Linked DNA regions of Homo sapiens: region 1 is linked to region 2. Evidence: fine-mapped expression QTL. A gene starts in region 2. The other region holds a variant in brackets. All regions are shown on one strand. Distances are from middle to middle. Region 1 holds the start of PEDS1-UBE2V1 (PEDS1-UBE2V1 readthrough). Region 2 holds the start of UBE2V1 (ubiquitin conjugating enzyme E2 V1).

The links. PIP is the estimated chance that this variant, and not a neighbour inherited with it, causes the effect. A credible set is the group of variants that fine-mapping cannot tell apart.
Region 1: its variant is the best candidate, but not a certain one, in a credible set for the expression of UBE2V1 in whole blood (TOPMed, PIP 0.50).

Annotation. Positions count from the first base shown.
Region 1 is chr20:50,149,302-50,154,666 of GRCh38, forward strand. It overlaps PEDS1-UBE2V1 (PEDS1-UBE2V1 readthrough), which reads right to left and starts at 4,422. Exons shown (of 8, transcript NM_199203.3): 1 at 4,216-4,422. The coding sequence starts at 4,336. PEDS1 (plasmanylethanolamine desaturase 1) reads right to left here and starts at 4,422. Exons shown (of 6, transcript NM_199129.4): 1 at 4,216-4,422. The coding sequence starts at 4,336. RefSeq lists a silencer at 4,176-4,855. The variant G/C (reference allele first, on the strand shown) is at 3,262.
Region 2 is chr20:50,109,824-50,115,188 of GRCh38, forward strand. It overlaps UBE2V1 (ubiquitin conjugating enzyme E2 V1), which reads right to left and starts at 3,327. Exons shown (of 4, transcript NM_001032288.3): 1 at 3,284-3,327. The coding sequence starts at 3,305. All of the region lies in intron 5 of PEDS1-UBE2V1 (PEDS1-UBE2V1 readthrough), which reads right to left. RefSeq lists a silencer at 2,855-3,394 and enhancers at 3,565-3,674, 3,679-4,246.

The sequences.
Region 1 (5,365 bases), 39 kb after region 2:
TCCCCAGGGCAGGGGGCACCCACAGTTGGCCTGGGTGGGGTACAGGTGGATCAAGGACCGTGAGGCTGCACCCATGAAGCCTGGGGCACCTGAGAAGTAGCACACACATGGCCAGATTTCAGCTGGGACCTCCTGGGAAGCTGGACACCCGCCTCACCCTCTGGCCTGCCAAGCTGGCCAGGCCCTTCACAAACCCTGACATCTGGCATGAGGTGGGCTGCTGCTGGGAAACTCAGCCCAGAACAGGACAGAACGGCTCCTGGGTCCTGCAGGACCAGGGCTCAACCTCTGGGCCAGACACTTGGGGCCTGCGAAATCAGGCTGTGGCCGCCTCCCTGCTGCACCTGTCACCATTCCCTCAGCCCCATGCTGCTCTGGTCCAACTACTCACAGCTCCCTACACACAGAGGCCCATTCTCTGCCACCTGCCCTGCACACATGCTGTTCTGATGATCCGGAATACTCGCCCCCACCTCCCACACACTCACCCCTGGCTGGCTGACTTCCATAGTGAAGAGTAAGAACACAGAACCTAGCGCACCCCCACCCGGCCCAGTCCCGGGTTCCAGGCCTAGCCCTACTGCTGCCCGGTGCCCCGCCGTATGACCTCAGGCAGCCTCTCCCATTTTCTAAGCCTCAGGAAATGTTCCAACAAAAGTGGACTGGGTGCTCATGAGGGGCCAAGCACTTTAATCAAACCAAATAGGTTCAGTCCCTGTCCTGCTGGCCTTCCCATCAGGTGAGGGCAGATGCGGGCCTAACCCCGATCAGGGTGAGCTTTAGGAAGAGCATGCCTGGGGTGGGGGTTGGGAGGGGTTGCAGCCTCCTCCTCTGTGAATGCAGTTAATATCAAGGTACAGCTCACACGGTTGTAGTGGGGATGCACGGAGAGCAGGTGAGGAAAATGCCAGCACAGTGAGGCTCAATCACTCGGCTATGTTGATTGCCATGATTATGGCTGTCAACTGTCACAGTGCCAAACCACCTCCAGCCCCAGTAATCTCAAACATTCTGCTCCTAGAACCCAGGAACTTCTTCTACTCTTCCCTCCAGCCTACATGTGTCCTCCATATTCCCTAAACATGCCTGGCAAGCTCCCACCTCAGGGTCTCTGCATTTGTTGTTTCCCTGGTCTGGACCAACCCTTCTTCAAATATCCTCAAGGCTCCCTCCCTCCAGTCCTTCCTCCCTTCAGGCCTCACTTCGAATGTCACCTGCTCAGGGAAGCCTTCACTGCCCCCTCCCTAAAATGTCATTCCTGTCCCCAACATTTCAGATCCCCCTCTCCTGCTATGTATTTGCTCCACAGCGCTTGCCACCACTGGGCACGTGAGACAGTTATTTGTCAAGTTTATGGCCCGGCTATTTACTAAAATGCCAGCTCCGTTTTTTTCTTTTTCTTTTTTTTTGAGACAGAGTCTCGCTCTGTCATCCAGGCTGGAATGCAGTGGTGTGGTATTGGCTCACTGCAACAACCTCCGCCTCCTGGGTTCAAGAGATTATCCTGCCTCAGCCTCCTGAGTAGGTGGGATTACAGGGGCCTGCCACCATGCCCAGCTAATTTCTGTATTTTTAGTAGAGTCGGGGTTTCGCCATGTTGGCCAGGCTGGTCTCGAACTCCTGACCTCAAGTGATCCACCCACCTCGGCCTCCCAAAGTGCTAGGATTACGGGTGTGAGCCACCGCGCCCGGCCAGCTCCATTTTTTTCTGTCTTGTTCACCATTCTGCCCCCAGAGCCTAGAACATGGACTAGAACATAGGTGTTCAATATGCACTGAGCCTGGTCTCTCACTTTTTCAGGCCCAGAGAGGTCAAATACTTCCCCAAGATCACACAGTGAGCAGATAGAAGCAGAGAGGCCAGTGGAAAGGAAGTTGGAGAAACCAGTTTGGCAAGTCTCCTCCCCTACCTCCAGGTCTGGAGGAGATAAAGGGCCTTGATTGCAGATTTGGGGCACCAGGCTGTCTGCAGACTCTGATTCAGGCATGGCTGTTCTTCAGAGAGTGAAGGGCACTTGGGGAAACCAGAAATGGACAAATATGCAATTGATCGTGGTGGAGTGGGGAAACAGCAATCCCTGGGGAGGCTCAGAATGCCTGGGAATGATTTGGGCTGTCTGAAAGTAGGTAGGGTTCACAGGAGCAGGCAGAGCTGGACACTAAAGAGGGAGGCCCTTGAATCCTTATCCCCAATTCCCAGGTGGGGAGTTTGAGGACCAGAGAGGTGAGGCGGATCCCCCACAGCAAAGGTCAGACTACTGTTAACAACAGGGAGGCGCCAGGCACAGTGGCTCACGCCTGTAATCCCAGCACTGTGGGAGGCCGAGGTGGGCGGATCACAAGGTCAAGAGATCGAGACCACCCTGGCTAACACAGTGAAACCCCATCTCTACTGAAAATACAGAAAATTAGCCGGGCATGGTGGCGGGCGCCTGTAGTCCCAGCTACTCAGGAGGCTGAGGCAGGAGAATGGCGTGAACCCGGGAGGAGGAGCTTGCAGTGAGCCGAGATCACGCCACTGCACTCCAGCCTGGGCAACAGAGTGAGACTCCATCTCAAAACAAATAAAACAAAACAAAACAAAAAACAACAAAAAAACCCACACAACAACAGGGAGTGCCTACTGAATGCCAGTGGACGATCTCATTTCCACTTCCTAACACGAAGGGGCAGATAAACTTTAACTTGCAAGGAAACCAAGGGGAAACAGAGACGGAAAGTGGCTTGGACCAGGTCATACAGCTGAATAACAGAGTCAGGATGTTAACCCTGGCCTACCCCCAGGAGAGCAGGAGGTTTTAAGTCCATAGGCTGGGTGTCTTGGGTATAGGCCTGAAGAAACCATAGCGGCATGGACCAGGTGCCCAAGTCAGGTGTGAAAAATCACATACAGAGAATGGAGTGGTCTAGGACCCAGTGAGGAAATGCAAATGGTCCGTGGCCATGCCGCCTTTTAAGGAAGAGACGGCATGGAACCCAGGCCAGTGAGGGCAGAAAGCTAAGGTGCTAGTGACCCCAGGCCCACTCCAGGCAAGGGCTGCATGTGGTGCTTGGTGGCTGCCCCACAGAAAAAGGAAGGATGTCAGGATATTTGACAAACAAAGCTTCATTCCATGGTGACACCCAGGTAGAGGTGCCTCCCAGTCACCTGAACCAGGAGTTCTCAAAGGCACTTCCTTAACTCCTGGGGATATAGGGCCCTCCTGAGGCCAAACAGTAAAATTCCTAGGGCTCACGTAGGAGTCACAAAAGTGGGTGTAG[G/C]GGGGGTGCTTGCTGGAGCATATACAGTGAGCAAAGCAGGAAGAAGCTAGGGAGAAACCGTGGCCTGAGGGAAAGGGACAGAGAGGGAGAGGTGAACTCCAACTTATGATCTGGTCTGGGGAATATGGGGGTTCCAGTCCCAAGTCCTAAGGAAGGGGCCAATACATGGATGTGAGGGAGGGGCAAGAGCTAGAGTTGGGGCTTATGTACAGGGGAGCTTACAGTGGGGTACATTCAGTCCCCTCACTGCCTGGGATCCAGGAATATGGGGCAAGGACTGATGCTCACCACTGGAGGGTTGGGGAGAGGATATCGGTCTGTAGCCACTGAAGCTATCACTAGGATGGGGTTTTGGGGGAAGGGTGTGGGGGGTACCGTGCAGCTGGAAGCCCCTGAGTTAGGGTTCCCTGGGCAGAGGGGCTGACATTCCCAGGTTAGGGAGGTGAGGTCATTGTTTGCAGCCCAGGGCCTGGGCTAGGGCACAGAGGAGGTACTAGGATGTAGATTCCAGATCTGGGGAACCCAGGATGAGGTGTGACTTTTAGGGGCCTGAGGGCAGTGCTTACAGCTGAAGGGCAGCTTTGGGCTTGGACCGGGTCCTGGGGGGATGAGGGGGTGGGGTTCTAAGTCTAGGAGCACTCTTCACAACCGAGAATGCCCCGGGGCTAGGATTCCGTATCTGCGGGTCCGATGGGAGCTCCGTTTGTCGCCCAGGGAGCTCATGGTAATTTCTTGATCTGGGGAGTGTCTCTGCAGCCAGGAAACCCCGGGGCCAAGGTTCTGGCTTGGGTTCGGAAGGGACACTGGGGTGGGGTCCCCGAACTTGCTATTTGCAAGTTAGACACCCGGGCTGGAGTTCCGCATCTGGGCCCGAGGTTGGGACTCCAGTCTGGGGTCGCTGTCCGCAGCCGGGGCTGGTGACCGCAGGCCTGGAGGGGGGCCCAGAGGTCTTACCTGGCGAGTAGAGCGCAGCCAGCTCGCGGGCCCCGGCGTGCTGCGCGCCCCAGCGGCAACAAGACGCCTCGTCCTCGTCCAGCTCCAGCTGCTGGCCCGGCCAGTTCTCGGCGCCCGCCATGGCCACTCGCCCGATCGGCCCGGTGCGCTCTGCTGGCGGCGGCGGCGGCAGGGCCGCGGAACCGCGGCGAGATCACGCCGCCCAATGACCGCCCAGCGCCGGGCGCGGCGGCGGCGCGGGCGGGGTCCTCGCCCGGCCGCGCGTCACAGCCAATCGGGGCTCGCGCCGGAGCCGCGCAGGCCAATCGGACGTCGCTGAGCCGCAGCCAACCGCCGCGAGCCGGAGGCTGGGACGCAGCTGGACGCAGCTGGGCGCGGAAGCTTGGGGCGGAGGCGCGTGCCCGCCTTCCCAGCTCAGCCCCGGCAGGGCTCCCGGCTCCAGCCCACTGGGAGCTCGCGGCGCGTCGCCGCCCAGCTAGGCTTCGGTTCACGGGCCCATGCAATGGGCCGAGGCAGGGCCCAGAAATGGGCATTTCTTGAGCCGGCAGCGTTAAGCGCCCACTGTGTGCAAGGAACGCGAGGGCAGGGCGCCGGGCTGGGGCCGAGGCCAGGAAGCATTTGGCGGGTGCTCTGTACGATGCTCCCTAGCGAGGCCGATGGAGAGTGGGCTGGTTTATCAAGCCCTACTGTGTGCAGAGGTTTCGGGTGCCATGTGTTCATCAGCTGTGTGCCAGCTCTGTGCTGTGCGCCCAAAGAGGAGAAACGTCGAGCCTGCCCCGCATCCTCCCCAGCTCATGTTCTCCCGGTGGCGAGGACAGTAAACTAATGAAAATGACAACTAGGGTCACTATGAGATTTGCTGAGCGCTTAATATCTGTCAGGTGCTGGACCAAGAGCTAGACGAGCAACATTTATTTGACTCTTAAACACCAATGGTATTGCCTCCTCAGAGAGCCCCACCACCACCACCCTGCTCAAAGGTGCCCCCTCCTCCAGTCACTGTGACATCACCCTGTTTTGTCTTCACAGCGCTTCTGGTGGGGATTGAGCTTGCAGTCCCTGTCTCTCCTATCAGAGAGCAAGCTCCTGAGGGCAGAGAACAGCTTTGTTTACAGCAGGGCCCCCGTGCCAGGATCGGGGCTGGAACATG
Region 2 (5,365 bases):
TTTCTTTGGCTGAGCACAATATGAAGCTGTTCTTTGAATGTAGGGCCCATGTTGTACAAAAGGCACTTAATTACAATTGGCATAAGATGCTCACACAGTGAGACATACAGGAACTGAGAAGAACTAAGGGACTGTGAGTTTTCATCCATTTCCAGCTCTCTCTGGGGAAGACTCTTGAATGGAAGGGAAGACTAATCTCTGCTGCCCACATGGTTAAGTTTTTATAAGCTGAATGTGCATATGAGGCCACTCCGATGTATGCAAATTTAAAATCATGCCCCACCAGGGCTTACCCCTCTGGCACTCATTTTCTGATTAAATGTCAGGGAAGCTCGTGGGCTGCTGAGTGAGAGGAAGGGCCTGGCAACCAAGGGCCACTATTTGATGTGCTGCAATCCTGGCCAAGGCAGGAGGAAGTCACCCGTCATAACATGGGGATTCTGAGGATCTGTGGTGGGCTTTTCACAGTTCCACCCTCTAAGACATATGTAGATATCACACATTGCAGAACCAAAGGAAGTGGGAAGGTGGTGTAGCCAAATGCTGAAAGCAGTGACCATAAAAAACTAAGTTCAGCCCTTACAGGAACTCAAAGGCTTCACAGCTGTTTCCTGGCAACCGGAGGCACAGATTAATCAAGAGCCTCACTCTAAACCTGACTAAGGAAGGCCTCTGGGCCCTGACCACACCTGGAAGACTTCTCAGGGTTAGAAAGCAGAGAGGCCTGTACACTCATTTTAGTTTACCCCAAGTAAGGTCTGCTTTACTCTTAGCACCCTGCACTCTTTTCACTGCCTAGGGACGAAGGTCAGATCTTATCATACTCCTCTTTTTAAGACTCTTATTCATTCATTCAACAAATATTTACTGAATGCCTACTTCATACCAGACACTTGTTTGATGGCTTCCCCTCATACCATCTCAAATCCAAAGCCATGTCTCTCCAACTCATCTCCTTAACAAGCCTTGCTTGCACATGAAGGCCTTTTATCCTGTTATTTCAACATGCCAAGCAGAGTCCCACCACAGGGCCTTTGCACTAACAGCCCACTCTCTCTCCTGCCTGTGACACTGTAGGGTTAGCTCTTTCCATTATTTGACTCAGCTGAAATGTCACTTTCCTGACCACCTCTCCAGACACTATCACATCACACAATTTCCTCCATAGCACTTACTGCTATCTGAAATTGTCTTATTTACTCCTTAACAGCCTTCTCTCCCTGACTTGAATGGAAGCTCCCGAAGGATACAGACTATGTCCATTTTGTTTGCTATCCACGATGGGACATAATAGGCCCTCAGTAAATATCTGTTGAATAAACAGACAAAAGAATTTTGGGAAGTCCATTTTAGGGCACCTCAAAGCCTGTCCTATGTTATCTAAACCATGCCAAGTGCTCTTGTATTCCACTAGACAGCAGCTGACATTTTATCTGATCACCATAGCCATTTATGAAGCACTCACTTTTTAACTGTCAGGGTCTGGAGAAGTTAGAACCGGGCAGCTGTTAACCCAGATTGTAGGTAGCCAACCGAGTGACTGCAAGCAGGGCTGAGCTGCAACAGCACCTTATTGCTGGCTACCACCAGCACACTGGGCCCCTTCGTTTATTACGACCCGGTAGGAGTGTTATTCTGGTGAGAAGTTTTACCCAGCAGTCTGGCCTGACTCAGAATCTCTCTTCTGGGAGTGCCTGGGGCAGCGTCATGGTAAATGAATTGACTCAGCACTGTTCCAGCTGAAACCAAAATCGAGTAAAAGGATTCATGGTCTCCGCTATTCTGCAAGAAGACCCCACTGTTTTAAACTCAAAAGGCAGCAGCTTGTGGTGGGTCACTTCAGTCAGATCCCCCACATTCAATTTCTTTTATTCCCACCCCAACCATCAGGCAAGTATGGCTCCTTGAGACCGCAGAGTAGCAACATTTATAAAGAATTCCCCTCACCCTATTTCCCATGGATCACCAATTCCTTCCCAACACTGCCGCTGCTGTGGCCTTAAATATGCCAATGATTGCTGTACTCAGGCTGGTGTCCCTGCAGCCCCACAGTGGGGAACACTGTGGCCCTGTTTGCTTCCTCCATCAGAGAGGTAACCCATTTTCACCCCATCTGAGAGAACCTCCTTGGCCAACTTCACTGCCAGGCACCTGAGGGTGCAGCCTCACCCAAGAGTTCCCATTTCATCTATTCACCTCCCTACTCCCATCAGCCAGTGGGGAACTTCTGAGCTGAACCCACATATCTGTCCCAATTATTAAAGGAGTCGATGAGAGTGAGCGTCTCCACAGAAGAGACACTTCTAGGATATGCTTCCCTCACTCAATTCAAAAAGAGGAGACTTTTCTCCTTTACAGGAAACATCTCCGGAACCCGACCTTTTCCACTCCCTCATTTCAGGGGCTTCCCTCAGTTGAATCCCCACTCCCAAAGAGACATCCTCGGGGCTCCCAATTCATCTGTTCTCCCTCATCCAATATCAGAGGCTTCCACCAACTGCCCCACTCGGACCTTGTCCCCTGAAACCTAACTTGAAGCAATCCATCTGTATCCTCGAACAGGAGACTGGTAATGATGGGGTCATTTCACTATCACCGCTATTAGGTCCCTCTGGCATCTGAATCCTTTTCCCTCCTCTCACTTATCATGCGGAGACCCCCTTCATTCTCCCCAAAAGCAGCTGCTCCAAGGCTCCTCCTTTCTAGTCAACATAGCTATTTCCTCAGCTAACCCCATCTCTAAAACTAACGCCGGAGCCGTTCCCTCAACCGATAGGGGATCCTCTCAAGTCACCCCCTCAGGATCCCGTTTCTTCCATCCAGCCTGAAGGGCTTCTCTGATGTCCCCTCCAGACATCCCAAGGCCCCTCTCAGCCGCACCCCTGGCACCCAGTATGGGACTTCCATCCGCTGTGGGGCGCCTCCTCTAGGGGACCTCTAGATCGCCCCTTAAGAGTCGCCAGCCCCGGTATCCTCAGGAGTGCCTCGGAGCTCGCTCCTCGCCCACTCCGGCTCCCCCAGACAGCACAGAGGGCCCTCACGCCTCCCGGGGGAGCCTCAGGGCCTCGCCGCGCCGCCCACAGGCCCCTCAGCCCCCCGCCCGTGCTTCCGGCCACCGCCTGCTCCTCCTCCCCCGGTCAGGCCGCGCCGGTGGCTGCCGCGGAGCCCAGCAGACAGAGGCGGCGCGGGGACCCTGGCTCCGCTGCAGGAGGCTTTGAGGGTCCCCGGCCCCCGGCCCAAGCCCATGCCCCCTCGGCCGGCCGGGCCCGGCGCCCCCGCTCACCCGAGCCCGTGGTGGCTGCCATCTTGCGTCGCTCTTGCTTGAAGGCCGGCCCCTTCTTCACCCCCCCCTTACCCGTCCCCCGGCCCTGATGCGCAGGCGCGCGCGCACGCACATACGCCGCCGCTGACGCCCGCCCCGGAGACCTGCACGACCCGTGGCCTGGAAGGCTCTTTTCCTTCCCTTTTAGAGAAAGGAAATATCTGCGTGCTCGAGGGCCCAGCAACCTGCAAGTCCCCACACATCGGGTGCGAGGGAGGTTGTGATGTGCTTAGTGAGAAGGGCAGGGGTGACTAGGCTTGGGAAGGCGCGATTGTGAAAGAAAAAGAAAATATAGCTTCAAACAAAAGCGCCGAATTCGCTTGGGGCTTTTTCCTGTCTAGTTCCTATCTAGATCCTCACCACATCTCCGCAAGGTCAGAATTAATGTGAAAAATGCAGCCGAGAGAGATCAAGCGATTTATCTAAACTCAGCTGTTAAGTGGCAGAGACAGGCAGAATTTTAACCTCCAGGTTCAAATTTTTTGAATCATCACCCTCCAGGTCAGATGATCTGGCTCCTAGGATTGATGCTCCCCGGCCAGAGAAGGCTTGGAGTGGGTGCAGCTAAATGATTTAGGGGCATTAAGGTGGCAGGGAAAGCATTTGCTAACCATCTACCCAATTCATTCATTCATTCATTCATTCATTCGTTCATTCATTCATTCAACCAAACAAACAAACATTAAGCACCTACTATGTACCAGACACTGTGCTAGGCGCTGGGGATGGATAGACATCTCTGAAGAAGCAAATCCCTGCTTTCAGGGACTTACATTCTAGTCGTAGACAGCAAGTAAATAAACAGGAAACTATAATTCTGATAGGGTAGAGATAAACCAAGACAAGAGCAGCAGAGGATGGTCAGGAAGGGCCTCCTAAGGTGGTCATATTTCAGCAGAGACCGTAACAATGAGGAGGTAGAGGGAACAGCTTGTGCAAAGGCCCTTGGGAAATATTTTTGCAAATAAATAAACCCAAGAAGGTACTCCTCCTTTATTATAAATTGTCTGAGAAGCCCTTATATGGATGTAGACACTGAGGCTGAGAGAGGTGAAGGGACTGGCTTAAGGTCACAGAGCAAAATACTGGCAGAAGGACCAGGACTCTAAACATAGAGGGACAAGGAAGCTGGAAGCCCTCACCCAGCACATCCAATTCATCACCTTTGTCTGATAGCAGTGCCTACTCTGCATCTCTCCACTCCGTTCACTTCTCCACTCAGGGCAAGCTGCCTTTATCTCCCACTTGGAAGACCCCAGCAGCTTCCATTCTCTCCCCTATGGCCCATTCTCCATATAGACCAACATCTGCTCAAAACACCCTCCAGCTAAAGCCTTCAGTGGCTCCCCATTCCCTCTGGATAAAATACAAACTTTACAAGTTGAGCGACCATAGAATTATCACCTAATGAGGACACACATCAGATTAAAAGGGGACTTATTATAATCTCACCAGGACAAGTGGAAACCAGGGCTCTCCAGGGCAAAGCAGGATGCCTGGACACCCTGTGCACCAGGCTCTGCACCCAGGGCAGGGACGAGGATGGGGTGGTCAGATTTAACGGGGCTTTCACTCAGGTCCTGACTCCGCACTTGCACAGCGCTGCAGGTGAGTGACTCCTTAAAATCTGCACCCTAGGGCAGGGCATGGTGGCTCACACCTGTAATCCCAGCACTTTGGGAGGCCGAGGTGGGCAGATCACCTGAGGTCAGGAGTTCCAGACCAGCCTGGTCAACATGGTGAAACCTCGTCTCTACTAAAAATACAAAAATTAGCGGGGCGTGGTAGCACACACCTGTAATCCCAGCTACTCGGGAGGCTGAGGCAGGAAAATCGAGCGAACCCGGGAGGCAGAGGTTGCAGTGAGCTGAGATTGCACCATTGCATTCCAGCCTGGGCAACAGAGAGAGATTCAGTCTCAAAAAAAAAAAAAAAATCTGCACCCTAGGTACCCCACTTGCCTCACCATAGCCTTGGCACAGCCTGCGCCTCTGAGACTTTCTGTACCTCTGCGGCGACACTGGCCCTTTGCAAGCCCCCTGG